Homo sapiens: one gene and its partner. The protein of the gene in region 1 interacts with the protein of each later gene in a biochemical or structural test. Each region holds a gene or a part of one and is shown on either strand. Other genes may lie near its edges.

Region 1 (16,516 bases):
CTTATGGTTCTGGAGGTCAGAAGTCCAAAATGGGTCTTGCTGGGTTAAGATCAAGGTGTCAGTGGGGCTGTGTTCCTTCCAGAGGCTCCAGAGGAGAATGTGTTTTCTTGTATTTTCCAGTTTAGAGCCCGCCTAGCTTCCTTGGTGCCCTTCCTTCATCTTCAAACAGCAATGGCCGATTGAGTCTTTCTCATATCATGTCACTCTTGGCTCTGACCCTCCTGCCTTCCTCTTTGATTTGGTTTGGTTTGGTTTTGGTTTGAGCCAGGATCTCACTCTGTCACCCAGGCTGGAGTGCAGTGGCATGATTATGGCTTACTGCAGCCTCCGCCTCCCAGACTTAGGTGATCCTCCCACCTCAGGCTCCTGAGTAGCTGGGACGACAGGCATGCAATACCAATACCCGGCTAATTGTTTTGAATTTTTTGTACGTATGGGGTTTCACCATGTTGCCCAGGTTGGTCTCGAACTTCTGGACTCAAGCCATCTGCCCTCCTCAGCCCCGCAAAGTGTTGGGATTACAGGCACGAGTCACCGAGCCCAGCCTGCCTTCCTCTTTCACATATAAAGACTCTTGTGATTATATTGGGCCCACCCAGATAATCCAGGGTAATCTCCCCCATCTCAGGGTCAGCTGATTAGCAACCTTCATTCCATCTGCTCCTTTAATTCCCTCTTGCCATGTAACCTAACATATTCACCCATTCCAGGGATTAGGACGTGGGCGTCTTTGGGGGCCACATTCTGCCTACCACACAGTCCTCTCTAATGGTGTAGGATGCCTCTCTCCAAATCACAAATGATGAATAAATAAAAGCATCTCTACCCAGGGCTGTTGCATTTCTACCTGAGAAGAGGTCCTAGCAGAGTCTTCCAAATGCTGATTATTCCTGTCTTCTTCAACAGCTCCCACCCCCCGGCCCCTGCCCAGCCTCCCCTACCAGGCTCGATGTAAAGTGATGGTGAAGTGAAAACAGATTTGGGGCCCTTGCCACCTCTTTCTGGTTGGTAACTTTGTTTCTTGGACAACAATGCAGAGTTTGAAGCCCATCCAGGGACAACATTCCATCTGCCCCCTGCAAGTTCCGGTAATTGGTCACTATTTATAATTATATAAATAATAGAAAAACAAGCTTAAGCTGCCCTCCCCAAAAACCCAGTCTCCTCCTATTTTTAGGCAGCCAGCCTGCCCTCCTGTAGGGCAGCGTCCCTCTGAGGTCTGGGCCACTCAGCTCCAGCCATGGGCTGAAGCAATGATGCTGGTGACAGCAGTGATTCTGCCACCCAGGAAGGGGCCAGGGGTGATTTTCTAACTCAAGGTTGAGTTTAAAGCTCTCAGAGAATGAAGAGAAGGAACTATTCTAAAGCCCCCTTGCTGCGATCATTCTCCCAAGACCAAATCTGATTCTGTAAGAACTGGGAGCTGGACAGAGATTCGAGTCTGAGTTTCATTGATGTGTCTCACTGGGAGTCACGGGACCGGGAGAGACGGGAGGCTAGAAGAGACAGGAGAGTCAGGCTGGCTATAAAGTCCTTGATGTCCAACTACCACCCCCCTGCCAAAAAAAAAGGAACAGACAGTTGGGAAGGGTGTGCTCTATGCCAGCCATTTCACCCTTGTTCCGACTCTTCAAAGATGGGATTGTGGGGCCTATTATACCGATGAAGACATTGAGGTTTGGAGTTGCAATATAACCAACCCAATGGTACACAGCCAGGGAGTGGGCAGAGCCAGGATTCAACTCAGATCTGAATCGATCTCCTATAGCATGCCCACGGCTATGGGGGAAGATCAGGGTGCCTCGGGAAAAAAGATTGTTCAAAAGAAAATCAAAACGATAACTTTAATTTCAAAATGCAAATTGCGGGTGAATCTCTGATCCCATTGACACGAAAACCAAGAGACCACGACATATGAAACCAGCCTAAGGAGCCTGAATGATCTTATGAGAAAAAGCGTCTGTGTCAGAGCCAAATCACTGACGCAGGCCACCTGTGCGGTCTCCCTCTCCCTGGACCTACTTTATGAGAGCTTCACCACACATTGCTTGTTTGATGTGGTTTAGGTGCGGTCTTCGCTAAGAGGCCAAGCAAGATGATGTAATCACCTGATGAGTTCCTCCTGCCCACTGCACAGACAAAACCAATTCACTGAGACGACGGCATTGCAATAAAGAAAGAGCTTAATTGACACAAGGTTGGCCACTCCTGTCTCAAATCAAATCAATCTGAAAATTTGGAGGCTAGGGTTTTTAAAGGATACTTTGGTGGGCAGGGGGCTGGGGAATGGGGGCTGCTGATTGGTTGGGGATGCAATCACAGGGTTGTGGAAATTGGTCCTTGTGCACCAAGTCCACTTCTGGGCGGGCTCCCCAGGACCGGCTGAGCCAAGAGTTGAAGGTCTGGGTGGGGCCATCCGGTCATCAGAAATGCAGGTAAAGACATCTCAAAAGGCCAATCTTAGGTTCCACAATAGTGAATTGGGACAGTTGCAAATCTTGTATCCTCTGGAATAATGGCTGGTTGTCATTTAACTATGCCTGCGTCTTAGCGAAATTTAGGCCCCTCTCATCCTCCTAACCTGGTGGCCTTTCTTTTCTTTTCATTTTTTTTTAAGAAACAGGTTCTTACTCTGTCCCCCAGGCAGGAATGCAGTGGTGTGATCGTGGCTCACTGCAGCTTAAAACTCCTGGGCTCAAGTGATCCTCCCACTTCAGCCTCCTGAGTAGCTGGGACCAAAGGCAAATGACATCATGCACTGCTAATTTTTTTTTTTTTTTTTTTTTGTAGAGGCAGGGTCTCACTAAGTTGCCCAGGCTAGTCTTGAACTCCTGGCTCAAACGATCCTCCCACCCCAGCCTCTCAAAGTGCTGGGATTACAAGCTTAAGCCACTGTGGCCGGCCACCTGGTAGCCTTTCATTAGTTTTATGAAGGCGGCTTAGTTTTGGGGAAGGGCTATTCTCATTTAAACTATAAATTAAATTTCTCCCAAAGTTAGCTCGGCTCAAGTCCAGGAATGACCAAGGGCATTTTGAAAGTTAGAGGCAAGATGAGGGTTGGTGAGATCAGATCACTCTCGGTGTCATAACTTTCTGTTATAATTTTTGCAAAGGCGGGCTCAATGGTACTTGGAGTCCCCATAAATCTCTTGGTCAGTGGCCCAAATGCTAAGACAAATGTCGTGTTACTCCTAGAACATTACCATGCCTTGGGAGTTACCCCAAGCTAAACCATTAGAAGGGGCAGGTGAATTACAGAAACTGCTATTCAGACACCTTCGAGTCTATGCTCTGATTCTGGTTTACAATCCTTTGGGAACATCTTGGTTTTTCTATCAATAAAATGCGGATGTGCTGGGTGCCTCTCCTCCGGGCCCCTGCAGTGACTGGTACCGGCTAGCATACCATGATGTTCTGTTCACATCTCTTTCCTTGCAGACTTTGGGATCCCTGAGGTCAGGGACTGTCTCCTTCACTGTAGTGTCCAAACTCCTGGCACTCAATAGTGAATGCATGAACAAATAAACGAACATATGACAGTCAACTGGGTAGTAGTTTCCTGGTCTTGACTGGCTTGCAAGAGCAAATGGTTAAATATTCAGGGATTTTAAGCTGGGCATGGTGGCGCATGCCTGTATTTGCAGCTACCTGGAAAGCTGAGGCAGGAGGATCCTCTGAGCCCAGGAGTTCGACGCTAGCCTGAGCAACATAGTGAGACCCCATATCTAAAAAAACAAAATTCAGGGATTTTGCAAGCCTATTGTTAAATTATCAGTAACTTGAAATTGACTATGGCACGAGTATTTACACACAGAAATTGGCAACTGCTACAGATTAGGACTTCTGCCCCTCCTGCCCTTTTCAGAGAACTTGTTTACCAGCTCACCACTGGCTAGCACTTACGGTGTCAGGCAGTTTTAAGCACCTTCTCTATATGAATCTGCATTTAACCCTTACAATGTTACATATATGAATCTGCATTTAACCCTCACAATCACCTTACATGTATGAATCACCTTACATATATGAATCTGCATTTAACCCTCACAATGTTACATATATGAATCTGCATTTAACCTTCACAGTCACCTTACATGTATGATCACCTTACATATATGAATCTGCATTTAACCTTCACAATCACCTTACATGTATGAATCACCTTACATATATGAATCTGCATTTAACCCTCACAATCACCTTACATGTATGAATCACCTGACATATATGAATCTGCATTTAACCTTCACAATCACCTTACATGTATGAATCACCTTACATATATGAATCTGCATTTAACCCTCACAATCACCTTACATGTATGAATCACCTTACATATATGAATCTGCATTTAACCCTCACAATCACCTTACATGTATGAATCACCTTACATATATGAATCTGTATTTAACCGTCACAATCACCTTACATGTATGAATCACCTTACATATATGAATCTGCATTTAACCCTCACAATCACCTTACATGTATGAATCACCTGACATATATGAATCTGCATTTAACCCTCACAATGTTACATATATGAATCTGCATTTAACCTTCACAGTCACCTTACATGTATGATCACCTTACATATATGAATCTGCATTTAACCTTCACAATCACCTTACATGTGTGAATCACCTTACATATATGAATCTGCATTTAACCCTCACAATCACCTTACATGTATGAATCACCTGACATATATGAATCTGCATTTAACCTTCACAATCACCTTACATGTATGAATCACCTTACATATATGAATCTGCATTTAACCCTCACAATCACCTTACATGTATGAATCACCTTACATATATGAATCTGCATTTAACCCTCACAATCACCTTACATGTATGAATCACCTTACATATATGAATCTGTATTTAACCTTCACAATCACCTTACATGTATGAATCACCTTACATATATGAATCTGCATTTAACCCTCACAATCACCTTACATGTATGAATCACCTTACATATATGAATCTGCATTTAACCTTCACAATCACCTCACATGTATGAATCACCTTACATATATGAATCTGCATTTAACCCTCACAATGTAATTGCCACTTTGCAGATGGGGAAACTGAGGATGAGAGAGGTTAACTTGCCCAAGTATGGTTTCATAGCCCTCCATGACAGGAAGGTGGGAGAGCCAAATGAAGACCATCCTGGCCATCTCTGGGCTCAGCTGCTCTTTGCGGCTTGACAGGGACCAGCTATATGAATTGCGGTCACCACTTTTAATCAGCTCCTCCAGGAGGAGGTCCTCTGGGAGAAAAGACGCAGTTGCCTGGTGACTAAAGTGTTTCCCAGTCCTCCAAAAGTCATGCTGTGTTATTGGGGGGGATAAAGCTTGCCCCCCAGCAGGGTGCCCCTCTTCCAGGGCTCTAGACAAAAAATCCAATGAGCCCTGGCCAGACCCCATGCAAAGCTGCAGACCTCATTCTTGCTTCTTGCTTTGTTGACGCCTGCAGAGCCATTGGTAGGTTTGAATGAAAGCCATGACGTCCCGGAACAGGCAGCAGCTGGCTTTGCGTGGAGGGCGCCTTGCGGTGTGCACATCATTGCCAGAGGAGGGCAGAGCCCGGGCAGATGGTGGGTGCCACTGCAGGGGCCCCCACAGAGACATCTGTCCACCAAGAATTTGGCTTTGCTGTATCCCTTCGGGACCACAGTTGGGGACAGTCCTGGACTTCCTGAAGCTCAGCTTTAGGGATGACAGAGTCTCTCCAGGGGCCCATTCTGGTTTGAACATTCCATCTCTCTGTGGGCTCCATCACGTCAGCCCTTGTTTACCCATCTGCTTTGTCACTGCCCGTGTGTCTGTCTCCTCACCCCACCAGGAGTTCTTCAGGAGCGAAGGTGGCATCTTATTCCTGGCTGTGGCTCCAGGACCTAGCAAGAGCCCTGAACATAGTAGGTGCTCAATAAATGTGCAATGAATAAATGATTGAACGAATGCATAAATTGTGCCTTGGTTTTTTCTGCCTTCGTGCTGCTCCAAGGATCTCCTGATTACTTCTCCAAGCCCTGCTATTAGGAATAAATCCTCCTCTGTCATCCTCAGCAAGACTTCCCGCCTCCCAGCTCCCTGCTGACTGGTGGTGGTGGCTTGTTTGGCTGTGGACCCAGGAGAGGGGATGAGGACTCTGAGAAGGCCTCCCTGAGGATGTGAGTTTCCACTGAGGTCTGAAGAGGAAGCGGGAGTGCAAGAGAGTTTCAGGCAAAAGGAACAAGTACAAGTGCTTGTCTAGTAGCTAACAGCGGTCAGTGGGTCAGGGTAGACAGGTGATCGGGTAGGACAGACTCCCTTCATACTAGATACCAGGGGCTTCCTTGAGATCACCAAGGGACAATGTGAAGCCATGTGCCCTTCTCCTTGTCCCAGGGCTTTTGTCCCCACCAGAGCAACTGTGCCAAGCAGGAGGGGCTGATGTCCAGAGAATGCCACTTCCTATCCCCCACATCAGACAGTTCCATCATTTAATCCTTGACTAGTTTAATATAATAAAATTCCAGGAACTGACATTTTAAGTTGGAATAAAATTGCTCCCAGCAGCTGTACGTAATGGGCTGGCTCAGCGGCTCAGAACTCCCAGGGGTATTGGGGATCCTTTCCTGATCCCAGAGGCCTGCCTGTTTCCAGAATCCTTTAAACCAAAATGCAGTCCCTAGGTCAGCTGTCCTGCCGGCTCAGATCAGCTGATGACCCACAGCCAACATCTTTCCACCTTGATCAGGTCTTGCACTGCCCTCTGGAGAGTGCTTTAAAATGCAGATTGCAGGTGCTGCCTTAGCTCTACGAGTGCAGACAGGCAGTGGAAGAGGAAGCTGGATTTTCCATTTTAGAGACAGGGTCTCGTTCTGTTGCCTGGGCTGGAGTGCAGTGGTGCAATCAGAGCTCACTGCAGCCTCTAACTCCTGAGCTCAAGCGATCCTTCTGCCTCATCCTCCCAAGTAGCTGGGACTTCAGACGCACACCATTGTGCCCAGCTCATTTTTAAAAAGTTTTAATTGCTGGTAGAGCTGGGGTCTTGCTATGTTGCCCAGGCTGGTCTCAAACTCCTGGGCTCAATCCTCCTGTCTCAGCCTCCCAAAGTGGTGAGATTACAGACATGAGCCACTGCACCTGGCCAAAAGCTGGATTTGCAACCAGGAAGGGGCTGATTCTGATGCTCTAGGAGGTTTTAGGACCAACTCCCACCCTCTACCTCGGGCTCTGAAAGTCACCTCCTGCCCCTGGAAAGGGCTGTGACCCTTGGCTTGAGCCTGTAGTCTGCAGGAATGAACAGCAGTTCTCAGCAGCCCCCTTCCCAGCAGCCTGTGAAACTGATGGAGGTAGGTCCACCCGAGTCCCCTCTGTGGGCACCGAAAAACTCCTGCCCCCTACCCTGTCCCCCTTCCTCCCCAACATTTATCATCGAGACTAACGTTCAGAACAGACCTGATACCTGACGGTCATTGATGGTGGTGTCACTAAGCACTGCAGAGCCTTCAGGAGAGCCTTGACCTTGATGTTCTGCCCTGGCTGTGTGCCTCTCCAGGGGACAAGATTCCATAGCGCCCACCAGCCTCTGTGGCCATGTGCTGTGTCCACGCCAGGCCCTCTGGTGGACATCTCATTAACTTATCCTTATTTTAAGGAGGAGGAATCACATTACACAGGCAACAGCATCGGCCCCAGTCACCCCAACTGGATGGAGAGCCAACCCCTCAAGCCATCTTAACCCAGAACTTCCCTAATGGGCATGGGGACCACCGGCATTGCCTTCTCTCCAGCAGTTTGTCCCAAATGCAGCCTCCTGGGCCCACTTCTGCAGTTGTTTTTTTGTTTGTTTGTTTTTTGAGACAGAGTCTTGCTCTGTCGCCCAGGCTGGAGTGCAGTGGCAAGATCTCAGCTCACTGCAACCTCTGCCTCCCAGGTGCAAGTGATTCTCCTGCCTCAGCCTCCGGAGTAGCTGGGATTACAGGCATGTGCCACCGCGCCTGGCTAATTTTTGTGTTTTTAGTAGAGACGGGGTTTCACCATGTTGGCCAGGCTGGTCTCGAACTCATGAGCTCAAGTGATCCGCCCGCCTTGGCCTCCCAAAGTGCTGGGATTACAGGCGTGAGCCATGCGCCCAGCCCGCTCCTGCAGTTTGAGGTGCCTCTCAGCCACCGGGCTGTGCAGGGCCCACACGGGCCGCCACGTGGGTGTGTTCACCTCAGAAGGTGCTGGGGCTTTCCTGGAAAAAACCAAAGCGCATGGTGCATTTTCAAATAGGATTATTATTACTGTTGTTCTCCATAGAGCTATTTCATGCTCGCTGACTTCCTTGACTATCTCAGTGGAGTTTCCCTCCTAAGATCTGGAGGATGTAAGGTGGGATGGGTTGGGAGTGGGCATAGCACCTCCCAGGGGTCCCACCCCTCCTACCCACGCCCCCAAATTTGCTCACACCTGCTTCCTTCCAGATCCAGCAGGTGTGCGGAAGGGACGAGGTACGTGAGCACTGCTGCACGAACGGGGACTCCAGAGCGGTGGGCTCCGGGGTCCCCTTCCCGGCGGTTTCCGGGCCGGGGCGGGGCGGGGCGCTCCCCTAGCCGCGCAGTGCGCGAAACCGGCGTGCGCTAGGACCGCGGCGCGCCGCCCTCCGCCGTTATATGAGGCCCCGCTCCGGCCCCACGCGGAACCCGCGGCTCCGAGCCTTCGCCGGCGTCCCGACCCGAGGCCGGACCCGAGGCCAGTCCCGCCGCTGCGCAGCCGAAGCCAGTGCGGGGCCTGAGAGGGACGCGCGCCCCGGGGCCCCCGCCGCGGGCACCATGGGCGCTGCCCACTCCGCGTCTGAGGAGGTGCGGGAGCTCGAGGGCAAGACCGGCTGTGAGTACCCGCGGGGGGCGGCGCGGGGACCGGGGCGGGACCTCCGAACGGCCACTGTTGGGGACCCCGGCCCGCCGCCGCGCTGTGTGACCTTGGGCCAGTGGCGGGCCCTCTCTGCGCCTCAGTCTCCTCCTCTTTCAAATGGGTCCCCGCTGGCCACCTCGCGGGCTGCGGCGAGGAGCTCCGCGGCGATGCTCAGTGCCGCAGCCGCTCAGCTTCGGACTGGCCCGGGAACTCCCTGGCCGGGGGACTGCGGACCGGGGAGGGAGCGGGGCCCAGGCTTCCCAAGCGCAGGGCAGGTGCCTCAGGCCGGGCGGGCAAGTCCCTCAGGCACCCCCGCTGGCGCGCGCGCCCCACACCTGAGAGTCGTTTGCATTCGTGAGCGCGAGAGCGGAAAGTTTTGAAGTCGGCGGACCTGGGTGGGAACAGGTCTCCGACGCTCCCCGGCCGGGTGACCTTAGTCGGGAGAGCCGGCGCCCGGCGCCTGCTTTCGTCCTCGCATCTGTAAAATGGGTTCAGGCAGCCTCATCCCCGCGGGTGGCTGGGAGACTTAGCGAGGCAGCGGCCGCAGAGCACTTTGCCCGGAGCCCAGCGTCCTCCCCTGAGTTCGCTGAGTCTCCCGGGACCAGCAAAGGCTGCGCGCCCCGCATCGGCCCGGAGGCGGGGAGCCCTGGGAGGCCTGGCCGAGCTGCCCGCAGGGAAATGGCGGAGAAAGCGCTTCTCTGCCCGAGTTCAGCCGGGCTGGGGACTTGGCCCTGGGTCCTGAACTCGGCATGGCCAGTTCTGCCTCTGGCTGTGGACCAGGGTGTGGACTGGAGACCGCGGGGGCCAGGTGTGTGGGCAAACCGGCTTTGGCGAGCGACAGACCGGCTGTGAACCCTGCCAGCTGCACTTCCTGGCTGTGTGACCTTGGGCTAGTCACTTTACCTCTCTGATTCTCAGCTTTCCTTCTCTGTTGTAAGAGTTCTCCTAGTACCTGGTAGACGCTCAGGAAATGGGAGCTGCAGATATTTTGGGAAAGAGCTAGCTCCTGGCACCTGCTTCAAGTGCAGAGAACCAGCGTCCAGTATTGATCACCAAGAGAGGGTGGCCCAGCTGTTTGTGTGTCAGCTGAAAAGCAACCCCTCTTGACCCCCAATCTAAATACCCCTTTCCAGGAGAACTGGATGAAAATTGCAGAAAACCATTAATAACTGGTGTGTGTATGCACGCACTTATACGTCTATATCTGTATCTCTGTGTGTGTAGAGATATAGAAATATCCAACTAAAGAAGTAAAAGGTGTGGCTCAGCATATATAATATGGTACCCTTTTTTCTGTTTTTTAAAAAAGGATCCTTTGAGCTGGAGCCGCAAAGTAAAAAGAAATAGAAAATGTAAAAAGAGGGGAAAATAAGAGTATACATTTGTAATTGCTATATTTGCAGACTGGAAGAATCCACCAGAAAGTACGAATGGATGCTTGGTGGGGGTTGCGGGGGGAGTGGAAGGGATGAAGGGAGAGTGAGCTTTTTCTCCGTAAACGTTTTTATATGTTCATTTTGAACTATGTTGGATATTTTACTTACTCAAAAAGTTTTATGCACTTCAATCCGAAGACTAATATGAGAGAGAAAGGAGGGATTCCTCTAGCTCTTACTTGCTTGGGTCTCCTCTGCTTTTATTATTTCTCATGTGCCCTCTCCTCGCCTCCCACTGCTTTGAATCTGGATGGGTGTCGATGGGCATTCTCTGTGGCTGGGATCCCCGTTGGAAGGGTGGGCTCTCCGGCAGCCCACGGGGCACTCGGGAATTCCACCTGGTTGTGGGTTTGACAGGGAGGAGGGGCTGCAGAGCATGCTGGGAGTCTTGTCAGTTTCCTGGGTCCAGCCTCCCACTGGGATGACAGATGCTGTGTTCCTGCTCTGTAACCTTCCTAGATGTAGCTGCAGCGGCTTCCCTTCTTGCTGCCCAGAGCTCAGACTTCATAACCCAAGGGAGATGGAGAGGGTCGGAGAGGAGGTTCTGAGGTTAGACTAGAGTAGGCAGGTGGAACTTTAGGTAGGTGGAAAGTTGCCCCCAGTCCTCCGAAAGGGACTGCGTAATTCGGTCACTTTTGCCCACTTAGCAAATATTTATAGACCAGGGGCTGGGGATTTAGAGATGACTCGGAGAGGCTGCTGTTCCTGGAGGGGGACACACAGTAAACAAAACGCCCGACAGGTGTTAAACTGTGAACGAGGCATAGCAGGGTGGCATGAGAATGGAGCTTTAGGGTGGATCCGGAGGTCCTCCCTGAGGAGGTGATAATGGAACAGAAATCCAAGTAAGAATGAGCCAGGGGTGTGCAAATCAGTGGAAAGGGCATCTCGGGCCGAGGGGACGTCGAATGCAGAGGCCCTGTGGCAGGGACAAGCCAGCAACAGTAAATAAGAATGCATGAGATGAGGACACAGCTGTCGTCAGGGCTCAGGCTGTGGCAGGAGCCTGGCTTCAGGGGCCTTGCCAGGTACCTTGGGCAAGTCACTTATGCTCTCTGAGCCTCAGTTTTATCTACTATAAAATGGGCATAGTCATAGTACCTCCCTTGAAGTTGTTGGGAAGGATTGAGTTAATATACATGAAGTAGTTAGACCAAACACATGTACATGGTTTGTTATTGACCATGCTTTAAACACTCTTGTATGTCCTGGTCGCTCCGAGCCATAGCTGAGAGTTGAGTCTTGGTCCCACCTCTCTGAGCTACATGACCTTGGGCAAGTCATCTTACTTCTCTGAGCCTCAGTACCCCCACCTGGATCCTGAAGTCATTGTGTGGATTTGATAAGGTTACGTGCGAGACGATCGGCTTGGCATGGGAACGTCAGCTCCCAGAGACCCAGTGGGTCAGGCAGGGCCCTTCCTCCAAGGCCATTCCCTTGGGAATCTTCCCTGAGAAAAAGGGAGAAAAGCCTCAGGGTAAGGTGGCCAGAGGACAGACTGAGCCCACAGGGCTGCTGACTCCCCCGCCTCCCTGAGGACCAAGATGACCCCTGACTTTCTGGGGAGGAATCAGCTTGGTCCCTTTCTGAGAACACCATCCAGAAAGGACCAGAAGGTCAGGCTGAGGCTGGTGATAATGAACATAATTCCCCAAGCACCTGCTGAGCATCAGGCTCCACGCTGGTGCTCTCTGCATAACACTCTTTATAGTAATGATCCCCCAGGAAGGCAGTGTTAGGGCCATTTTACAGGTGAGGAAACTGAGGCTTAGAGAGGTAAACCAGCTTGCCTGCAGTCCCACAGCTGCTAAGTGGAGGAGTTGGAGATCATGGGATCCCCAAGCCTACTTTCTTTTTTTACAGTTTTTTTTAATTTTTAGTTTTTGAGGCAGGGTCTTGCTCTCTCACCCAGGCTGGAGTGCAAGGGGCATGATCAAGCTCACTGCAACCTCGAACTCCTGGGCTCCAGCGATCCTCCCACCTCAGCCTTCCCAGTAGCTATGACTGCAGGTGTGCGCCACCACACCAGCTAATTTTAAATTTTTCTGTAGAGACAGGGGTCTTGCCATGTTGATCAGACTAGTCTCAAATTCCTGGCCTCAAAGTGATCCTCCCACTTCAGCCTCTTGAAAGCGCTGGAGTTACAGGCATGAGCCACCATGCCTGGCCCCAAGACTGCTTTCTTACTGCCAGCATGCTTTCACTGTGTGTAGCTGCCACTTGAATTTCTAGGAACCAAGAAGGGATAGGAAAAGACTCCCGTATTTTTTCTCACCTTCAGGCCTTTGCACAAAAGCTGTTCCTCTGCCTGGAGCACTGTTTTCATTTGATGTGTACAATCAGGTGTTTACGTACGGGAGCCTTTCTCTGTCTCCACCCAGGGTAAGGTCTAGGCCGGGCGTGGTGGCTCACGCCTATAATCCCAGCACTTTGGGAGGCCAAGGCAGGTAGATCATGAGGTCAGGAGTTCAAGACCAGCCTGGCCAAGATAGTGAAACCCTGTCTCTACTAAAACTACAAAAATTAGCTGTGCGCGGTGGCAGACGCCTGTAATCCCAGCTACTCGGGAGGCTGAGGTCGGAGAATCGCTTGAACCTGGGTGGCGGAGGTTGCGGTGAGCTGAGAGCATGCCACTGTACTCCAGCCTGGGCGACAGAGTGAACTCCATCTCACAAAAAACAAAAACAAGAAAAAACAAACTCAAACCTTTCCTCTTAACCTTGTCTCTCTCTCTTTTTTTTTTTTTTTGAGATGAATTTTCACTCTTGTTGCCCAAGCTGGAGTGCAGTGGCGCGATCTCAGCTCACTGAAACCTCTGCCTCCTGGGTTCAAGCAATTCTCCTGCCTCAGCCTCGTGAGTAGCTGGGATTACAGGTGCCCGCCACCATGCTCGGCTAATTTTTGTATTTTTAGTAGAGACAGGGTTTCACCATGTCGGCCAGGCTGGTCTGAAACTCCTGACCTTAAGTGATCCGCCTGCCTCTGCCTCCCAAAGTGCTGGGATTACAGGTGTGAGCCACCGCGCACAGCGTTAACCCTGTCTCTTTATGAAACGAATGCTCATTATTGTTCAGGGGTTGGCTTACCTGCTGCTCCCATCCAGAAAGCCATCTCTCCATCCGACCTTTAAGGGTTAAACACCCATCCTCAGCGCTCCTGGAGCCCGCAATAGCAGGCATCACACCATGTTATACTTGTCAACTCTGTCACCTGCCACCCCTTCGAAACTTGGAGCTCCCTAGAGCAGAAAGAACGTGTCTTGTTCACCTTTGTATGCACTTGGTGGTTCAGTGAGAGCATAAGAGGCTCACGTTAAAGGGGCACAGTCCCTGGGGACTTTAAAACTCAAGGTGTATTGTTCAGGAACAGGCAGCCACTGGAAAACCCAGTGCCACCCTCACCAGCTGTCCTCGGCTGCCAACCCTCCCAGCATCTCCCCAGCCCCACCAAAAATATGCCTGAGCAGCAGCTTGCCACACAGGGCATCATCAGGTCTGCGTGCCCACCTTCCTTCTCCCTGCCTGTTAGAGTCTCATTGATTGATTTAAACCGGAAACGAGTATTCCCAGGAATCTTTTCTGAGCCAAGAAGGCTCACATCTAGATTGTTAAGATTCATATGAAAAGCCCGAGCGAAGGCGTCCCGGGGGTGTGATTGAGCTCACCTTCCCCACGCACCCGTGGTGACAGCAGCCAAGTGGTGTCTGGTGTGTGGACCGAGGTACAAAGTGGGACCTGACGGAGAGAAGGGCTTCTTGGGAATTATTCACCTGAGTCAGTTGTCCTTCACCACCTTGAGCTGGCCCCACTTCCTGTCCCCCCCATCCGTGTCTGCTCCTGGAGTTGGAAAGGAAATAATAAGACAGAGGATTCTGGGAAAGGTGGAGGGTCTGTTTTTTCCTTCAGGCTCCAAAACAGCTCTTCAGGCATGTCTATGTTGATGCCAAGAAGCTGCCAGAAGGAAAAGGAAAAAAAAAAAAAAAATCTCCAGACCTAGAGTTCAGACCTCATGATGGTAAGAGCTAATGTTTCTCGGGCGCGTGGCATCTGCCACACGTTCAGCTGAGCCAGGCAGCGTATCCGCAGTAGCTGATGGAATCCTCCCAGGAACACGGTTGGTTTCCCATTTTACAGATGCAGACATTGAGGCTCAAGAGAGGAGGTGCCTGCCCAAGGCCACAGGCATCATAATGAGAAGTAGAGTCGCAGGCTGGTGCGGTGGCTCATGCTTGTAATCCCAGCACTTTGGGAGGCCAAGGCAGGGGGTTCGCCTGAGCCCAGGAGTTGGTGCCACTGCACTCCAGCTTGGGTGACAGTGCGAGACTGTCTCCAAAGAAAAAAAGAGAGTCGGATTCCATTCCTGGTCTAATCTCATTTGGAGAAGGAGCTAGAGATGGCAGGGAGGACTGGCGTAGCCAAGCGTGGCTGGTGGGGGTGGCGCTGGTTTCTCCACTGCGTTCTCGCCCCTGGGTAATACTTCTTGGTTCTAAAGTCTTTAAGTGGCCTCAGACGGTGGCCTCGGCTCATTCACCAATTGCCATATTCTGCTACCAGGGTGGACCAGATGCGGTCCCTGCCCTCCAGAAGCTCAGGGGTTCCAGGGGGACAGGGGAGCACCCCAACAACTGTAGCATAGCGGGAGGAAGGGTCTGATGGGCCAGGGTGGACCAGCCAGCTCCACACTGTTCTGTCGTCCGCCAAAGCTTGGTAAGCTGAACAGCCAACCAGCCAGTCCCCCGTGCCTTTTCTCTTCCTCTGGGCTAGGTTGTGGCTTTTCCCCTGGCATCTTCAGGGAGTCCATGAACCCCATGAAATAGGATGTGGAATTGTCTGAGTGCCTCTGGGGAGGGCCCTCTGCCCTTGTTAGGGTCTCTGAACAGTGAAGTGTTTTCCATTGTATGGAAATCATGCCTCAGTAAGAAAATGATTCAAACAATTACTTTTATTGATTGTTTAAAATTAATTTGTTTTTGAGATGGCCCTGCTCTGTTGCCCAGGCTGGAGCATAGTGGTGCAATCACAGTTCACTGCAGCCTCTAACTCCAAGGCTCAAGTGATCCTCCCACCTCAGGCTCCCTCCTCAGACAGTGGCTCCTCAGCAGAGGAGGAATGAATGTGTCCGTGAAACCAGGGGGAAGGACCAGTCCTGTATGCTGAGCTCTGGGGCGGGGGGAGACCCTGGCCTGGAGTCATCCACAAAGTGGTCCAGATCATGGGACCCCCCCAGCCTCTGGAACCCTTTCTGCCTTGACTGGATGGGGGCTTCCAGGCCTCCCCTGCCCTCCTCTCTGGGGGCTCACAGGGGAAACTTGCAGGAGAATGCCCGCTGTGGAAGCTTCCCACAGGGCTGGGGATCAACCAAAGGCACCTGCCTGCTCTAGCCCATGCTGGTATTTTTCATTCTGTTCACCTGGGCCCCATCATCTCACCATCTGTCGCAGCCACAGAGCGGGACCCTGGAGGATGGCGTTCCATGTGCACTGAGCTCGGTGCTGGAGCCGTCCTGTGCCACTTCGCTCAGATGTCTCATCCAGGCTGTGTCCTTCTTTGAGCCACCAGTTCCGCTCCTTAAAAAACGCAGCCAGCTGTGAATGAGGTGACAGCTGCTCTTTCTTGAGCACTTGTCAATCATCTGATCTGCCGAAAAGCCCTTTGAGGGTGGGACTATTGCTGCCAGTTTATAGATGGGCAAACTGAGGTTTGGACAGAGGAAATGACTGCCCAAGATCACTTAGTTGCTGGGTAGGGAATCCAGACTCAAAACCAGGCCTTCTAGTGGGATTTGCCAAGTGCAGTGCCGGGAGAAACCGCCTCTCCCGCATGCCGAGAACCCCACATGCTCTGGACTGAGACTCTGAGAGTCGGCACATCTGTGTGATCTGGGGGAGGCCATGCTGTTACCCCACAACCTCGTCAGTAGAGTTCCACACATTGTTTACCAAGTCGGCAAGGGGAGAACTGAACCTTGAGGCAGATAGGATTGGTTCTGGGTGATGTGGAAAGTTCTGGAATCTAGGTGGGTTGCCCCCAGGGAGAACAAGCTCAGTAGTGGGCAGTGGGAGGGGAGTGGGGACCACGGCTGGGAGGAAGAGGCAGGAGGGTGCCGCCCCCTCTGTTTCCTAGGGTCTCACTGGGTGGCTCAGGTCTGTTTCAAAAGAATTTGTGTTTTCTCTGTGCAAGCC
Region 2 (15,525 bases), on another chromosome or scaffold:
ACTGAAAGGGGCCCAGGGCCAAGTCAAGCCTCGCTGTGGGGCGCCTTCCCTACCAAGACCTCTGACTAGCCCCACTCCCTCCCGTAGCTGCAGCCCTGCTGGGTCCAGCCCTGTGGTTCCATGAGCAGCCAGGAGGTGGCGCCCACACTCCACTCATCGAACCCAGCGGCCCTGACTCTGGGTATCTCGAAGCCTTGCCTGTGTCCGGCTGAGCCCCCTTCTCTAATCCCACCTGGGACCTATGCCTGGGATAGGTTTCAAATGGAGGCAGAGATGGCATGATGCCCCCTCCTCAGGCTCCCAGCTGCTCACACCACACCTTCCTATGGCTAGACCCTGGCGGCCTCCTGGGGCAGAGGGAGCCCCTGGGCACTGGCACAGGGAGAAGGGGCTGATGGGGGGCAGAGACTTGAGGCCCAGCTGCTCCCTATCTCCCTGTTCCTCCTTCTGCAACCAAGGGCCCAGCCCGCACTCCAGTACCTGTGTGTGGATCTCTTCGTTGATGGAGCGCTTCGTCTCTTGCTTTTTCTTCACAGCCAACAGGTCTACCAGGGGCCGAATGGTCATGCCCTGGGGGGCAGGCAGGTGTCAGGCACTCCAGTTCTGCTACCCAGGCAGGGAGGCCACAGAGCCTCCCTCCCTCACCCCAGGCCCCCAAGGCTAGGATGCCCTCTCTGCTCTGCTCTCTCCCAGGACCCAAGGGTGTGAGAACTCTCCCACCTCCCAGCACTTATCTAAAGACAGGTCCTTAAGGCCTGCTTCTTCCTGGAGACACGGTCAGAGGTTTCACTGCCAAATGACCCCCACACTGGTCATCTGGCCTGGGCCAGGCAGCAGACAGCCTGGGTTCAGATGTGGACTGCACCACAGACTTGCTCTGCAACCCCATGGAAGTCAGGCCCCACACACAGGGAAAACTACCTCTGCACTGCCTCCCCACCAGGACTGTGAGGAGGACCGAGTAATAACAGCAGCAGCAGATGGAACTGCACACCTGCCATGTGACCAACACACGTGCTTGGAAGTGTTCTAGCATCAATCAGCTCTCCAATATCCGCAACACTAAGAGGGAGGTCCTTCCATTGTCTCTATTTAACAGATGCAGAAACTGAGGCTCAGAGAGGATAAGCAGCTTTCTAAGATCCCAGAGAAGCAGTAAAGCCATGATTTAAACCCAGGCAGGCTGGCTCTGGAGGGAGGCCCCCTCCCCAATGTTGCCTTCAATGAAAATGGGCTTGGAAAATCATTAGCACATACAACTGCAAAATCAAGGTAAAAAAAATTTTTTGAAGATGGAAGCAGGGCAAGAGGACAAAAGTGGCAGCCTCCTCCTCTTTTTTTTTTTTTTTTTTTTTTTGAGATGGAGTCTTGCTCTGTCACCCAGGCTGGAGTGCAGTGGTGCGATTTCAGCTCACTGCAACCTCCACCTCCCGGGTTCAAGTGATTCTCCTGCCTCAGCCTCCCAAGTAGCTGGGATTACAGGCGGCTGCCACCACGCCCAGCTAATTTTTGTATTTTTAGTAGAAACAGGGTTTCACCATGTTGGCCAGGCTGGTCTGGAACTCCTGACCTCAGGCGATCCGCCTGCCTCGGCCTCCCAAAGTGCTGGGATTACAGGCATGAGCCACCGCGCCCAGCCTCTCTCCTTTTTCTTAACTCGAGAGAGAGTCTCACTCTGTCACACAGGCTGGAGGAGTCACACAGGCTCAATCACAGCTCACAGCTGCCTCAATCTCCTGGGCTCAAGCTATCCTCCCACCTCAGCTTCTCAAGTACCTGGGACTTACAGGTGTGTACCACCATACCCACTAATTTTTTTTTTATTTTTTGTAGAGACAAGGTTGCCATGTTGCCTAGGCTGCTCTTGAACTACTGGGCTCAAGGGATCCTCCTGCCTCGGCCTCCCAAAGTCCTGGGATCATAGGCGTGAGCCACTGCACCAGGGTCCCCTCTCCCTTTAAAGGACAGAAAATAAGCCCAGCCCCAGGTTTCCCCTATTTTTTTTTCTCAAGAGAATGCAAAGATGTATCCCATCTAGGGCTTTTTGAGTATCAGTGCCCAGAAAAGACAGAAAGGATGGTAAAGAAATGGAGGCTCAGACAGAGTGTTTCTTATTTGCCCAAGGTCAGGCAAAGTCAGGTAAGGCAGAGCAATTTGCACCATCACAGGCTGGGCTTCCTTGGGGACCTTAGGCAGGAGAGTGGCTGTCAGCTAAGCCTGAGCCGTTTAAATGTACAGAAATCACTGAGCAGCAGGCTGGAAGGATTCTTGGGAATCATCTCGCCTGGTTCCCTCACTTTACAGATGGGAACTGAGACCCAGAGAAGAGTGGGGGTCTTTCTTAGGGTCAGAGGGACACCAACACAGAGCTAGGGCTGACTCCAGGCCTCCTGCTGCCTGGCTCATAGCCCTTTCCAGTTCCCCATGCTGTGATATTATTCCCATTTTACAGATGCAGAAACTGAGACCCTAAGATATGAAATCTCTTGCCTAAAGCCCTACAATGAGTTAGTAGCAAAGAGAGATCTTGGGCCTGTTGACTGTACCCACTTCTCTCTCTTTTTCTTTTTTTTTGAGATGGAATTTCACTCTTGTTACCCAGGCTGGAGTGCAATGGCGCAATCTCAGCTCACTGCAACCTCCACCTCCTGGGTTCAAGTGATTCTCCTGCCTCAGCCTCCCAAGTAGCTGGAATTACAGGTATGCATCACCATGCCCACTAATTTTGTATTTTTAGTAGAGACGGGGTTTCACCATGTTAGTCAGGCTGGTCTCAAACTCCTGACCTCAGGTGATCCACCCCCTCAGCCTCCCAAAGTGCTGGGATTACAGGCGTTGAGTCACCGTGCCCGGCCAGTACCCACTTCTCTTAATGCTCTATGAGTTCCAAATTAAGTTGGGCAGCATTCTGGTTCCTTTACATTCTGATCAGTCACTCTGCAATGACTCATCACAATTCTCACTTTACGATTGAAGAAACTGAGGCCCAGAAAGGGGGAGTGGCTCGCCCAAGGTCACACAGCAAGTTAGTGGTGGAGCTGGGACTAGAATCGCATTTCAAATCACACGCTTTCCTCTCTTTCCACGGGAACAGCCTGTGAGGGTCCCCAAGGCAAGGGCCTGCCCTGCCCTGGCCCAGCACCTGCACAAAGACGGTGAAGAAGATGACAGTGATGATGGCAGTGAGGAACAGGTCACACATGGGGAAGTGCTTCTTGTCCAGGAGGTAGCCCAGAGAGAAGGCGATGGCCCCTCGCAGGCCCCCATAGGCGATGATGAACTGGTCCTTGGGGGTCAGCTTCACGATACGGAACTTGTTGATGAACCAGGTCAGGCCCAGCACCCCTGCAGGGGAAGGCAGGGGGTGATGAGGGTCAGGTCGGGCTGTCCCCAGTCCCTCCTGGATTCTGCATCAGTGATTTCTCTGTGCATCCAGGAAGTCTCCATTACGAAGCCCACCCCGCTCACTCAATTCCTGGGTCCCTCAGCCCAGAGTGCTCTGAACTCCTCAATCCAAGAGCTGGGTGGATCCTTAAAGGACTTCCCCAACCTGGATGTGCTTTAGAGACATCATGGAGGCCTCCAGTGGCTGGAGGGCTGGGGGCAGGAAGAGGGAGAAAAGATCAAACAAGATGGGTCACAGGTCAATACTTGTTAAATGTGATGGGTGTGTGGGGGGTCATGATCCTATTCTCTCTACTTTTCTAAGTACTTGAAATTTTCCATAATAAAGCATAAAAAATGCAGAGGGCTGGGCCCAACCTCCACCCACAGAACCAGAATCCCTGGAGGATGAGGCTCAGGAATAAAGGGGATTTCAAAAGTGCACCAAATAAATGTGAGGTCCTGCCAGGCTTGGGGACATGGACCTAACCCTCAGAGAGGAAGTGAGAGATCCAGGGAGGAGGCGACTGAGGCACTGGGGTGAGGCATGTGGGGCACATGTGAGTGGAACCCATGCACCTGGGGCCTGGTCCCCACGTGTGCCCCGGCCTGCTGCATAGGTTTGGAGGACTGCACGTGGCTCTGCATGCGATTCGGCACATGCTCACGTCACCTGTCTTGAGACAGTGCAGAGAGCACTCAGCTCAGAGTCACAGACCTGGGTTCTGTGGGCCTCAGGCCCCTCATCAGGACAGCCACAGCCACAGGCTCAGAGTCTCAGGGCCCCCTCACTTTGACACAGCCTGACTCTGTCCCCAGAGACCACAGCCTTGCTGTGACACAGGCTTCTCCCTGCTGAAGGGCCCATCATGGAAATGGGAAGTCCCTCCTGTCTAGCTGTGCTGGGAGCAGGCAGGAGCCAACCAGGAAACCTCCACCACAAACTGCATCACACATATACCCCCAGCCCCTCCACACACACACACACACACCCAGGCCCTCTACACACACACACCCACACCCTCACAGCCCCTCCACACACACCCACACCCTCACAGCCCCTCCACACACACACACACACACCCAGCCCCTCTACACACACCCAACCCCTACACACACACCCAGCCCTTCCACATATACACCCAGCCCCTCCACACAACTATACACACACTGCACCACAGCCCAATCCCTCCACACAACACACACATATATACAAAGCCCTCCACACAACATACTACACACACACACCCCCAACCCCTCCACACACTACACACACACCATACACACATCCAGCCCCCCTACAATGCACTACACACACCACACACGCAATACGCATACACACACACACCACAGCCCAGCCCCTCCACACAATACTTATACACTGCACCACATGCACACACCACATAGCCTGGCCCTTCCACATAGTGCACTGCACACACCACACACACAGCACCACAGCCCACCACCCCCCACACACACCCCACACCACAACCCCCACCCCGCCCCAGCCCTGGCCCTCACCCAGCACGCGGGCGATGAGGCAGAAGAGCAGGGTGCTGATGACGAAGGTCCAGTTCCAGTGGTGGGAGCCGGCCACCGTGGAGACGCCGAGGAAGATGAAGATGAGGGTCTCGCTGACGCTGCTCCACATCTTCAGGAAGTATTTGATGGTGGTGTGGGACTTGTGGGAGATGTTGGCCTCCACATAGGGGCGCATCACCACTCCTGAGGCTATGAGCCTGGAGCAGGAAAGAGCGGGGTCAGGGCTCCGTGTCGAGCTGCACCTGCTCGAGCCCCTCCACTGCCAGGGGCAATGGGGCCACGACCAAGGTGCCCATGTCCCAAGCTCCTCTATGGGCCAGGGGCCCGCTGTGTGCTTTACACCCTCTTGCCACTCATCCTCACATCAACCCTATAGACACGGTGTATTCCTCCATTTTTTTTTTTTTTTTTTTTTTTGAGACGAGTCTCACTCTGTCACCCAGGCTGGAGAGCAGTGGCGCGATCTTGGCTCACTGCAACCTCCGCCTCCCGGGTTCAAGCAATTCTCTGCCTCAGCCTCCCGAGTGGCTGGGAATACAGGTGCCCGCCACCACGCCTGGCTAATTTTTTTGTATTTTTAGTAGAGACGGGGTTTCACCATCTTGGCCAGGCTGGTCTTGAACTCCTGACCTTGTAATCCACCCGCCTTGGCCTCCCAAAGTGCTGGGATTACAGGCGACGAGCGCATGCCCGGCCCTATTCCTCCATTTTTAAAATGAGTGATCTTGGCTGGGCACGGTGGCTCACGCCTGTAATCCCAGCACTTTGGGAGGCCGACAAAGGCGGATCACTTGAGGCCAGGTATTCGAGACCAGCTTGGCCAATGTAGTGAAATGCAGTCTCTTCTAAAAATACAAAAATTAGCCAGGTGTGGTGGTGGGCACCTGTAATCCCACCTAATTGAGAGGTTGAAGTGGGAGAATCTCGAACTCAGAGGCTGCAATGAGCTGAGATCGTGCCACTGCATTCCAGCCTGGGTGACAAGAGTGGGACCCCGTCTCAAATAAAAAAATGAGAGATCTGACTCTAAGAGAAATAGTCACCTCTCCCCTGTCACGCTGCCTGCAGGCAGCAAAGCCAAGACACACAAACCACAGTGTCCAACTCCAAAGCCTGCACCTTTGCCCCAAGGCCACACTGCCTCTTGACCCAATAGGAGTCAATGACACAGACCCATGGTCTCCTGGGTTCATTCCCCTCAAGCGTGGCATCTGCCATTACACAGGGGTCTCCACAGGGAGCTTTGTTCCAAGCAGCTGCTTGGAGCTCGGAGTCCTCCCAGCCCAGTGCTCACACCCGGGCTCTGCTCCTGGGAGCCAGGGGCTCTGAACCCCAGTTCTGCCTTGCTCGGCACTGGAACACCTTCACCCCTCACTGCCTCCCCACATCCCATTCTCCCCATTTCCAGACCCGGTGGAGACCTCAGGACCGCCAGGACTCAGGCCTGGTGAGCCTCCTACTGGGGCTGCTGAGGGGACTCCCTTTGAGACAATGAAGTAGCAGGGCTGTGGCTTTCCTCAACCTGAAGCTTAGTGGCTTCCAAGGCTCTGCTCTCCTATACCCTGGGCTTGCCTTCATGCAGGTCATTCTTGCTTCATCTGCTCATAGCCTGAAATGCCCTCTCCCGATTCCTGGACCCCAGGGGGCGCTGCAGAAGTGCTCCTCTTCTAGGAAGCCACTGATGCCCTTGGCCATTTAAATGGCTACCAAGCAGGTCTGGAGCCTGGAGTTCATGTCTCATCCCTGGAGCTCAAGGCTGGGCCCTGGGAGCTCCGTGAACCTACGAGCCTGGGGAATCCAAGCTGGCAGCCCCCGCCCCCACCCCGCCAAGCCCACTGCCTGCTGCACGCAGACTCACGCCATGATGCCTGACAGGTGGAAGAGCTCGGCTGACAAGTAGGCCATGTAGCTGTAGAGGAAGACGAAGAGCGGCTCGATGACCCGGATGTGGGAGGTAAATCGGGAGGTGAAGGCTGCGATGACCCCGTAGACCACGCCCACAAGCACCCCGCCCAGGGCCACCACGAAGAAGCTCAGGAAGCCGAGGAAGATGTCCACGATGCCCACGTGTTCGTAGTTGGCAAACTCCTCAAAGAGGTGATACAGGACCTGGGGAGGGTGTGCAGGCTGGTGGGTGGGAGGAGAGGGCCCTGGCCCCACGGTTCCCTGGGGTCCACCCAGGGCAATCCTGTCCCCTCCGTTAACCATGGCCACAAGAAGAGGCCACACGGTAGCAGAGAAACCCTAGTGCCAAGCAGGTGCTCAAAACCTCAGCCTGGGGCTGAGGGGCTTGCTCTGGGCCAGCCACGTGCCCCACTGGTGAAGGGTGGGCCCTGGGAAGCTCTGTGAAGACCCTGAAGCCAAACTGCCTGGACTGGAATCCTGGCTCTGCCACTCCTGAGTTGTGTACAGGAAGCAAATTCATCTCCCTGTGTTTCAGTTTTCCTGTCTATAAAATGAGGATAATAATACCAAATCTTAGGACTGCTGTGAGGACTAAATCAGCGAATCAAGTGCTCGGAGCCTTACCTGATGCAGTGTTAGCCACATCTGGTGCTATCAAGTCTGCCTCTCACTGCCTGACCTTGGGCACGTCATGCCCATCACTGGGTTTCAGTCCCTCCTTCAGCACAAAAAAGGGACGTTCACACAATGAACTAGAATGTCATTTCTTAACCTCTGGAGCTTTCTGAAAATACACATGTTCAGGCCATACTGGACTTGGACTCTCTGGGATAGGGCCAAGAAATCTCTATGTAACAAGCACCCCAGGGGTTGCAATGAACAGCCAAGTTCAGATGCTATGGAATTAGAGGCTAAGGCATCCCTGTCTCCTGGACTGGGAAATAGATGGTCATTGCAACACTACCATCAGATGTTTAAGTGGCACTTCATACACTGTAAAGCCCTTTGATAGTCTTTATCTGAGTCGACACTCAACAACCATGCGAGGCAGGTGGGTCAAGGATGCTCCTTTGCTAAACCGAGGCTCACAGTGGTAAAACAACACGCCAGGGGGCCCCCAGCCCAGGAGCAGAAGAACTGGGCCCAGAACTTATTCCCTGACAGCCATGGCTGAGGCCTCCCCAGCAGGCTCAGCTTTGAGGATCTGCCCCTCCTATTGCTAGGTCCCTGAGCTGCCTGGCCTACTCAAGTCTGTCCTAGACAGCTCTGCCAGGAAGGAGCAGGGAGTTTCCAGGCCTGGGGGAAGGGAGGGAAGGACGTGAGGATCCATGACAGGGAACCCTCCAAAGCCCCCAGGACCTGGAGCAGGAGGAATGGACCGTGAGGAGTGACCTGTCTAGGGCACAGACCTGAGACCAGGCAGCTCAGGGTCAGCCTCTGGCTTTACTCTCTGGGAAATGGGGCACTCACACCTATGCCAAGAGCTCCAGAAAGACCTGACTTGGGCCAGGCAGCAAGGGGAGATGCAGAGCACTGGCCAGGCCTGGTGCGGCCTGGCCCCAGCTGTCTGGGGGATAGGACAGGGCTCCAGCGGCAGACAGCCTCTTAGCAGGTGCGTACTCAGCCGTGGGCTAAACTCATTCCTGGCCTGAGGGGATTCATGGGTCCTCATGGTCTACCACATGGGCCCATGGAGTCGGCACAGAGGGGAAAGTCCTCCTTTCTGGCCTGGTGCTATTACCCCTGGAACTATAGAGAAACAGAGTAACACAGTGGTAAGCACTTGGGCTTTGGACTCAGACTACGGATTTGAACCTCAGCTATATCATATATCAGGCTTATGTAACCTCTCCGTTCCTCAGTTTCCTCATCGCAAAAAAACTGGAATATAACTGTGTCAACCTCATGGAGTTACTGTATAGATTAAATGAGGCAACATAGGCCAGACACAGTGGCTCACGCCTGTAATCTCAGCACTTTGGGAGGCCAAAGAGGGAGCATCGCTTGTGCCCGGGAGCTTGAGACCAGCCCAGGCAACATAATGAGACCCCATATCTACAAAATAAATAAATAAATAAATAAATAAATTAGCTGGGTGTGATGGCCAGCACCTGCAGTCCCAGCTACTTGGGAGGCTAAGAGGGGATGATCATTTGAGGAGTTTGAGGGTGCAGTGAGCTATGATTGTGCTACTGCACTCCTGAGTGACACTGTCTGTGTGACAGGAGACTCTGTCTCTAAATAAATAAATAAAAATGAGGCAATACACATTCAGACAGGAAGCACCCAATGAACACCAGCAATCACTACCACCGCTGCCACTGCCTTTGGGAGACATGACCATGGGTCCACAAATGGCTGGGTCTGTTACCTGCTTGATGCAACCATGCCCCAAGCTCCACAGCAGTGCTCACCTGAACCCCAACACCCAGATCCCACTGGAGAGGGCTTTATCTTTGGCACTCACTGGCTTCACAGACATTAGTGAGTATGACTCACTAATGTAAGTAATCCTGTAAGAAGCCTGGGAGGATGACAGGCTGAGTACTGCAATCCCTGTGTCACAGATGGGGAAACTCAGGCTCATGTGGTAACCCTGGGCAAGAGCTAGTGCTAGAGGAAGCCAGGATGGAGGCCTGCCTGCTCAGGTCAGGCTATTCTACCCAGCCCCATGAGGAGGCGTGGGAGGAACAGGAAGCTGAGGCTGCCAGCAGCTGAACACCACAGTCTGTCTCTACTCTGAGGTGCTGCTTCCTGAAGGCTGGGGCTGCAGAGGAGGGAGTCATGGCCTGGGAATGCACATGTGCCCTTGAGCTTTCCTGTGTGTGCAGCTGCTCTGAGCGGGACAGCTCAGGAGGGGGTGGGAGTGTTCTCACAACACAACGTGAGCATGCACATGCACACATCTGTTTCCCAAGGAAACCAGCTGGGAGGAAGGGCATGTGCAGGTGTATATGGTGCTACCACGTGCAGACCCTGGAGGAAAGCACTAATCCTCTGCCACTTTGCAGCTATCAAAGGTGAGGCTGGCTGGGCGCAGTGGCTCATGCCTGTAATCCCAGCACTTTGGGAGGCTGAGGTGGGCGGATCACCTGAGGTCAGGAGTTCGAGATTAGCCTGGCCAACATGGCGAAACCCAGTCTCTACTAAAAACACAAAAATTAGCTGGGCATGGTGACACACGCCTGTAATCCCAGCTACTTGGGAGGCTGAGGCAGGAGAATTGCTTGAACCTGGGAGGCGGAGGTTGCAGTGAGCTGAGCTTGCGTCACTGCACTCCTGTCTGGGAGACAGAGCAAGACTCCATCTCAAAAAAAAAAAAAAAAAAAAAAGGTGAGGGCCACAGAGGTATAGCATTTGCTTAAGGTCACACAGCAAGCAAGTGGCCAACTTCTTTTACTTATCACCTTCTAGATGTTTTGGAGACAAGGCCCCTTTCCATAATCTCCGCCCAAAAACTGTGCACAAACCGAATTCTAACTTAAGATATAGCCAACATGAGAGCTGAAAGGCCCCTCACAGATGATATGGTCTGTGAAGAGGGAACTGAGGCACAGAGAGTGTAAGTAATTTGCCCAAGCTCACATCAAAATGCAAGAGAAGGGCCAGGCTTGTTGGCTTAGGTCTGTAATCTCAGCACTTTGGGAGGCCGAGGCAGGAGGATGGTTTGAGGCCAAGAGTTCAAGACCAGCCTGGGCAACATGGTCAAACCCCATCTCCACAAAAAATTTAAAAAATTAGCCGGGTGTGGTGGTGCATGCCTGTAGTCCTAGCCACTCGGAAGGCTGAGGCAGGAGGATCTCAGGCCCAGGTATTTGAGGCTGCAGTGAGTTATGACCGTACCAGTTCACCAGCCTAGAAGACAGGGCAAGACCCTGTCTCTTAAAAAACAAAAAGCAAGTCAAGTCAAGGAGGGAGCATATAACCTAGCAAAACCAAGAGCTTAGGCCCTGGAGTCAGTCAGACCTGGTTCAATCACAAACTGGTTCATACTCCAACAGGTTATTTAACTTCTTTGGGCCTGTGTCTCCCCTGGAAAATGAGAATAATAAGCACCTCTTAAGGCAGCCATGAGGACTTAAATGAGATAATCCATGCCGAAGGGCTCAGCATGGTGCCTGGCATACGGGAAGCGGGAATGTGCCTCAGCTGTTTTTATTACTGTTATTAGCGGGTGGATGAGGGATTCACTGGTGGGCCTGGATTTGGGTTTGTACCGTTTGGACATGGGCATGGCCCCTGGCCTCCTCACCACAGTGACGGCGTCATTGAGCAAGGACTCCCCAAAAACAAGGATGTGCAGCAGCTCATTGATGTGAATTTCCTCAAAGACAGCCAGAACCGCCACGGGGTCCACGGCCGAGATGATGCTGCCGAAGAGCAGGTTGTCCAGGAGGCCGATGTTGTTGATCTGCTCACCGCCCACCAGGCACACGGCGTACATGAGGCCGCCCAGGAAGAAGGCGTTCCACAGCGTGCCCACCACGGCAAAGATCAGGATGGTGCCCAGGTTTTCTGTGAACTGCCGCAGTGGCAGGAAGTAGCCCGCATCCAGGATGATGGGCGGCAGCAGGAAGAGGAAGAAGACGTCGGACTGCAGGAAGGGGGGTGTCTCGCCTACACCCTTGATCAGGCCCCCCACCAGCAGCCCCACCACGATCAGCAGGCAGCTCTCCGGGACGATGCTTGAGATAGTGGGGATCACATGGAAACCTGCGGAGGGCGAGAGAACGGGAGGCCATGGGCTTTCGGAGGAGCCAGGAGAATAGAAGGTTGGGGATGGGCCGGGGATGAGGAGCGCAGTTGGTGAGAGGTGCACAGGCTGGGTCTCAGAGGGCTGCTCTGTTAACTCTCTGAGCCTCCGCTTCCTCGCCTGTAAAATGGAAGGGACAATGCTAGCTTCACAGGTTTGCCATCATAAACCAAGTGACAGTGTTTTTAAAGCACTTTTTTCAAAGGATATATACATGCTATCTCTGTCACTGTCATAAAATGTTAGAAAGCAGCAGTTCTATATGCTTCCAGAAGGCAGAAATTATAAATTGATTACTGACGTGCCAAGTACCTACGGGCATCACCTACGCCTGAACCCAAGGCATTATTCCAGGCACAAGTTCAGGGAGGCAGATCTGAGCTCAACCTGAGGAATAACAATCTAACAATTCTGTCTGAGGGAAGATGGTAGTTCCCTATCACGGAGCTGTTTAAGCAGAAGGCAGACAACCAGCTGGTGGGGAGTGGCATAGGAGACAGAAGAAAGCACAGAAGAATCTAAGAATACCAGCGTGGGAAGGAACTTGGGGATAATAAGGCCTGGGGTCTGCAAACCTGCAAAACAGTAGGCTTTCCTACTGAGTCCAGGCAGCTGCTCAAGACACGGCTCAAGGATGTCAGTGGCAACCAGCTTTGGCAGGTGAGATAAAATCTATTTGCTATCCCGCTTCTAGCTCAATGCCACCCACTTTAAAGATGGGGCAACTAAGGCTCAGAAAAGGGAAGGGACTTGCCCAAAGTCACACAGCAAGTGGGGAGCAGAACTAGAATAGAACACAGGTCTGATGCCCCAGTTCCCATCAAACTGCACAGTTCTGTAATTCAAGCTCTCCTATCCTTCCCTCCCATCAAGGCCTCCTCACACACCCCTCTGCCTGGGACCCACCAGCCATCTCCCCAGGCCGTGTCCTGGCCAGCAACAGGCCGCTCTGCTGTAGTCCACCTTAAGGCTTCAAACCCAGAGCTGAGGAGTAGCAAAAATCCCCGTTGAGAGGGCCTCTCTCAATATCAGGTATGGCCAGAGAACCCTGAGCTCCTGTGAGTGGTTTACTTGTTTGTTTTGTTTTGGGGTGGGAAAGTAGGTGGAAAAAAATCTGAGCATCTAGTTGTATGTTGGGTACTATGCTCCCAGGGTTGGCATAGCCAAGAGGGTTTGTCCCTTTGCTCAAGAGGAAAGCTCTCTCTGGCCTGGCATGGTGGCTCATGCCTGTATCCCAGCATTTTAGGAGGCTGAGGTGGGAGGAACACTTGAGGCCAATAATTTGACACCAGCTTGTACAACATAGGAGACCTCATCTCCACTTAAAAAAAATAGCTGGGCATGGTATGCACCTGTAGTCTCAGCTAGTTAGGAGGGCCGAGGCAGGAAGATCACTTGAGCCCAGCCTCAAAAAAAAAAAAGAAAGAAGAAAGCAAAGCTCTCTCTCCTCCCCTTCCCTATCTTGCAAGCTCTGTGCAGGCAGATCCCATAACTGCTTATCATTATACACCCAGGGCTAGGACACAAGAAGTGCTCAACAAATATCAGCTGACTTGAAAATACACAGGGCTGGGACATCACCCAAGATTTCCGATAACCTGCATGCCTGGCCAGGCCTCTGCTCTCATTACTTACTCTTGAGATCCTTGGGACAGAGGAGGAACTTCCCTCTCCATGCCCAAAGCCCTTCCTACTCTCAGGTAGGAATCTGGGCAGTGCTAGTACGGTGACAAGTCAAAGTTCACACTGCTGGCTGGGCACGGTAGCTCACGCCTGTAATCCCAGCACTTTGGGAGGCCGAGGTGGGTGGATCACCTGAGGTCAGGAATTCAAGACCAGCCTGACCAATATGGTGAAACCCTGTCTCTACTAAAAATATAAAAATTGGCCAGGCGTGGTGGTGGGTGCTTGTATTCCCAGCTACTTGGGAGGCTGAGACAGGAGAATTGCTTGAACACAGGAGGTAGAAGTTGCAGTGAGCCGAGATCACGCCACTGAGCTCCAGCCAAGATCACTCCACTGCACTCCAGCCTGGGCAACAGAGCAAGACTCCATCTTGAAAAAAAAAAGTTCACACACTGAACACTATCCAGGCCCAGAATCCTGGCACAGTGCCAAGCACCCTGAAGACACTCAAAACACATTGGGAAAAAAAGATGTCTCCATCCTAGGCCAAGAGGACCTCGAAGGCACCATGTGCATTCTCCTGATTTCAAAATAGACATGACCAAAAGTCACTTTTTGTTCATCTACTTCCCACATCAATAAAAGGGAAAATAATTCCAAAATCACCCCTTTTGCTGAAAAGTCCCCCAGTCTTTGTACTGTCCACCAGTCAACATCCAGTGTGTAGCTGGCTGGTCCACTGGGAAGGGCTAGTCATGTTGGACCCAAGTCTCTCTTGCTGTAGAGGATAAAGCCCACATTTTCAGCACTGCCTCTGTCATCTGCTCTTGCCTCATGTCCCATTCTCCCCACTGTCAACTCTTAGGTTTCAGCCTTGCCAAATTCCTTGCAATTGCCCCATATGAGCCACATCCTCTTTTGCCTGCCAATCTTCACCTAGTCTAGTTCCTCTCTCTAGAAATCATTCCTCTACCTCTACCCCCACCATATGTGGCTGACACCATATCCTCTGCCTGCCTCCTCCTTCAGGAAGCATTCCCTGACCACCACCTGTCTGCTCAGGTTAGGGCAGGAATCTTCTGGTGCTTCCCTCTCTCATAACCTTCAATCCACAGTCATCTCCCAGGTTCCTCTCTCTCTTCCTGGCACCCACCGAGATCAGTCAGACAACCCAGGCAGAAGCAGCTGAGACAAGACAATGGCATCAGACCCCAAAGACCTGCAGTGTGCTGGAGGGGAGACAGGCACAGCGCAGCGGAGATAAGCAGGATGAAGATTTAGGGGAGCAGAGCTCCTACAGGCAGGGGCCAGAAAGCACCTTCCCAAGGCCGGAAGTCCAGCTCCAGCCAGCTGCATGCTGACCCCCCTCCACAGCCTCCCTGCCCCTGTCCTGGCGTTAGCACCAAGAGCTGCCTTAAGAGAAGGCAGAGTCTAAAGAGATAGTCCAGGGTAGGCAGATGATGGCTTCCACCTCCACCTAAGGGGTCGGGCTCTAAAAATGCCTCCTACCCTCACTCTGTGCCATCAACCCAATCCACAGAGCTTTCCTGGCCCCATAAATCGCCAGACAGTGCCTGGGAGACCCAGAGAAGAGTTGGCCACAGCTCCTGCCTGGGGAGGGGGCAGGCATGTGAAACAAGCCAAGAACAGCAACATGAAGACGGCTCCTCAGGTCTGAGGGCGTCCCATGAGCCAGAACTGTGCTGGGAGCCTGGCACGCACCATCTCATTCAGTCCTCACCACAGCCCTTGGGATAGGTATTGCCTCCATTTTGCAGAAGACAAAGCTGAGGCTCAGCAAGGTTATGCCACTCCCCTAGTGTCTAAGGGAGGACCTCTATTCTAGCTTAGGTGTCTCAAACCGGTAGCAGAGAGCGCTAATTAATTCTTTAGTCAAAGCTCGGTATTTTCTCTGAGCCAGGCCATATGGGACACTGGGAACATTGAGGTGACTCAGACTCTGAACCTCCGTGAGCAGCTGATGGGGAGGGCCATGCTATTCCAGCCCTTGGAGCTTCTATGACCAGGTGAACAGAGAGCTGGCATTCCTATTGAACACAAGAAAAACGAGCTCTGAGAGGAGGCTGCATGCACTCAGCCAGGCCAACCAGGACTGGGTCCCGGGCCTCCTGACTACAGCACAGCGACCTCCTTCTCCTTCAGCCAGCTCCAGAGTACCTGGGGCTGGAGCCATGTTCCTGGAGCTGGTTTCCCTGGCTTTCCTGTTTTGTCTCTGGCGCTCAGTGAGCTGAAGGAGCTCTAGGCCCTGATGGGCTCTCTGGGCCTGAGGGGAGGGCCGGGCCGGGCCAGGCTGA

Evidence for each region.
Region 2: the proteins of TESC (region 1) and SLC9A1 form a complex in vitro, tested with the Homo sapiens proteins (4 studies listed by BioGRID and IntAct, with this or other methods).

Annotation. Positions count from the first base shown.
Region 1 is NC_000012.12:117,091,584-117,108,099, reverse strand, and holds the start of TESC (calcineurin B homologous protein 3), read left to right. Parts: upstream 1-8,683; 5' UTR 8,684-8,817; coding exon 8,818-8,875; intron 8,876-14,411; exon of another isoform or gene 14,412-14,426; coding exon of another isoform or gene 14,427-14,448; intron 14,449-16,516. UniProt on the Homo sapiens protein: Functions as an integral cofactor in cell pH regulation by controlling plasma membrane-type Na(+)/H(+) exchange activity. Promotes the maturation, transport, cell surface stability and exchange activity of SLC9A1/NHE1 at the plasma membrane.
Region 2 is NC_000001.11:27,102,743-27,118,267, forward strand, and holds part of SLC9A1 (sodium/hydrogen exchanger 1), read right to left. Parts: intron 11,545-15,525; coding exon 11,084-11,544; intron 7,036-11,083; coding exon 6,785-7,035; intron 5,124-6,784; coding exon 4,906-5,123; intron 3,346-4,905; coding exon 3,143-3,345; intron 571-3,142; coding exon 481-570; intron 2-480; coding exon 1-1. UniProt on the Homo sapiens protein: Electroneutral Na(+) /H(+) antiporter that extrudes Na(+) in exchange for external protons driven by the inward sodium ion chemical gradient, protecting cells from acidification that occurs from metabolism.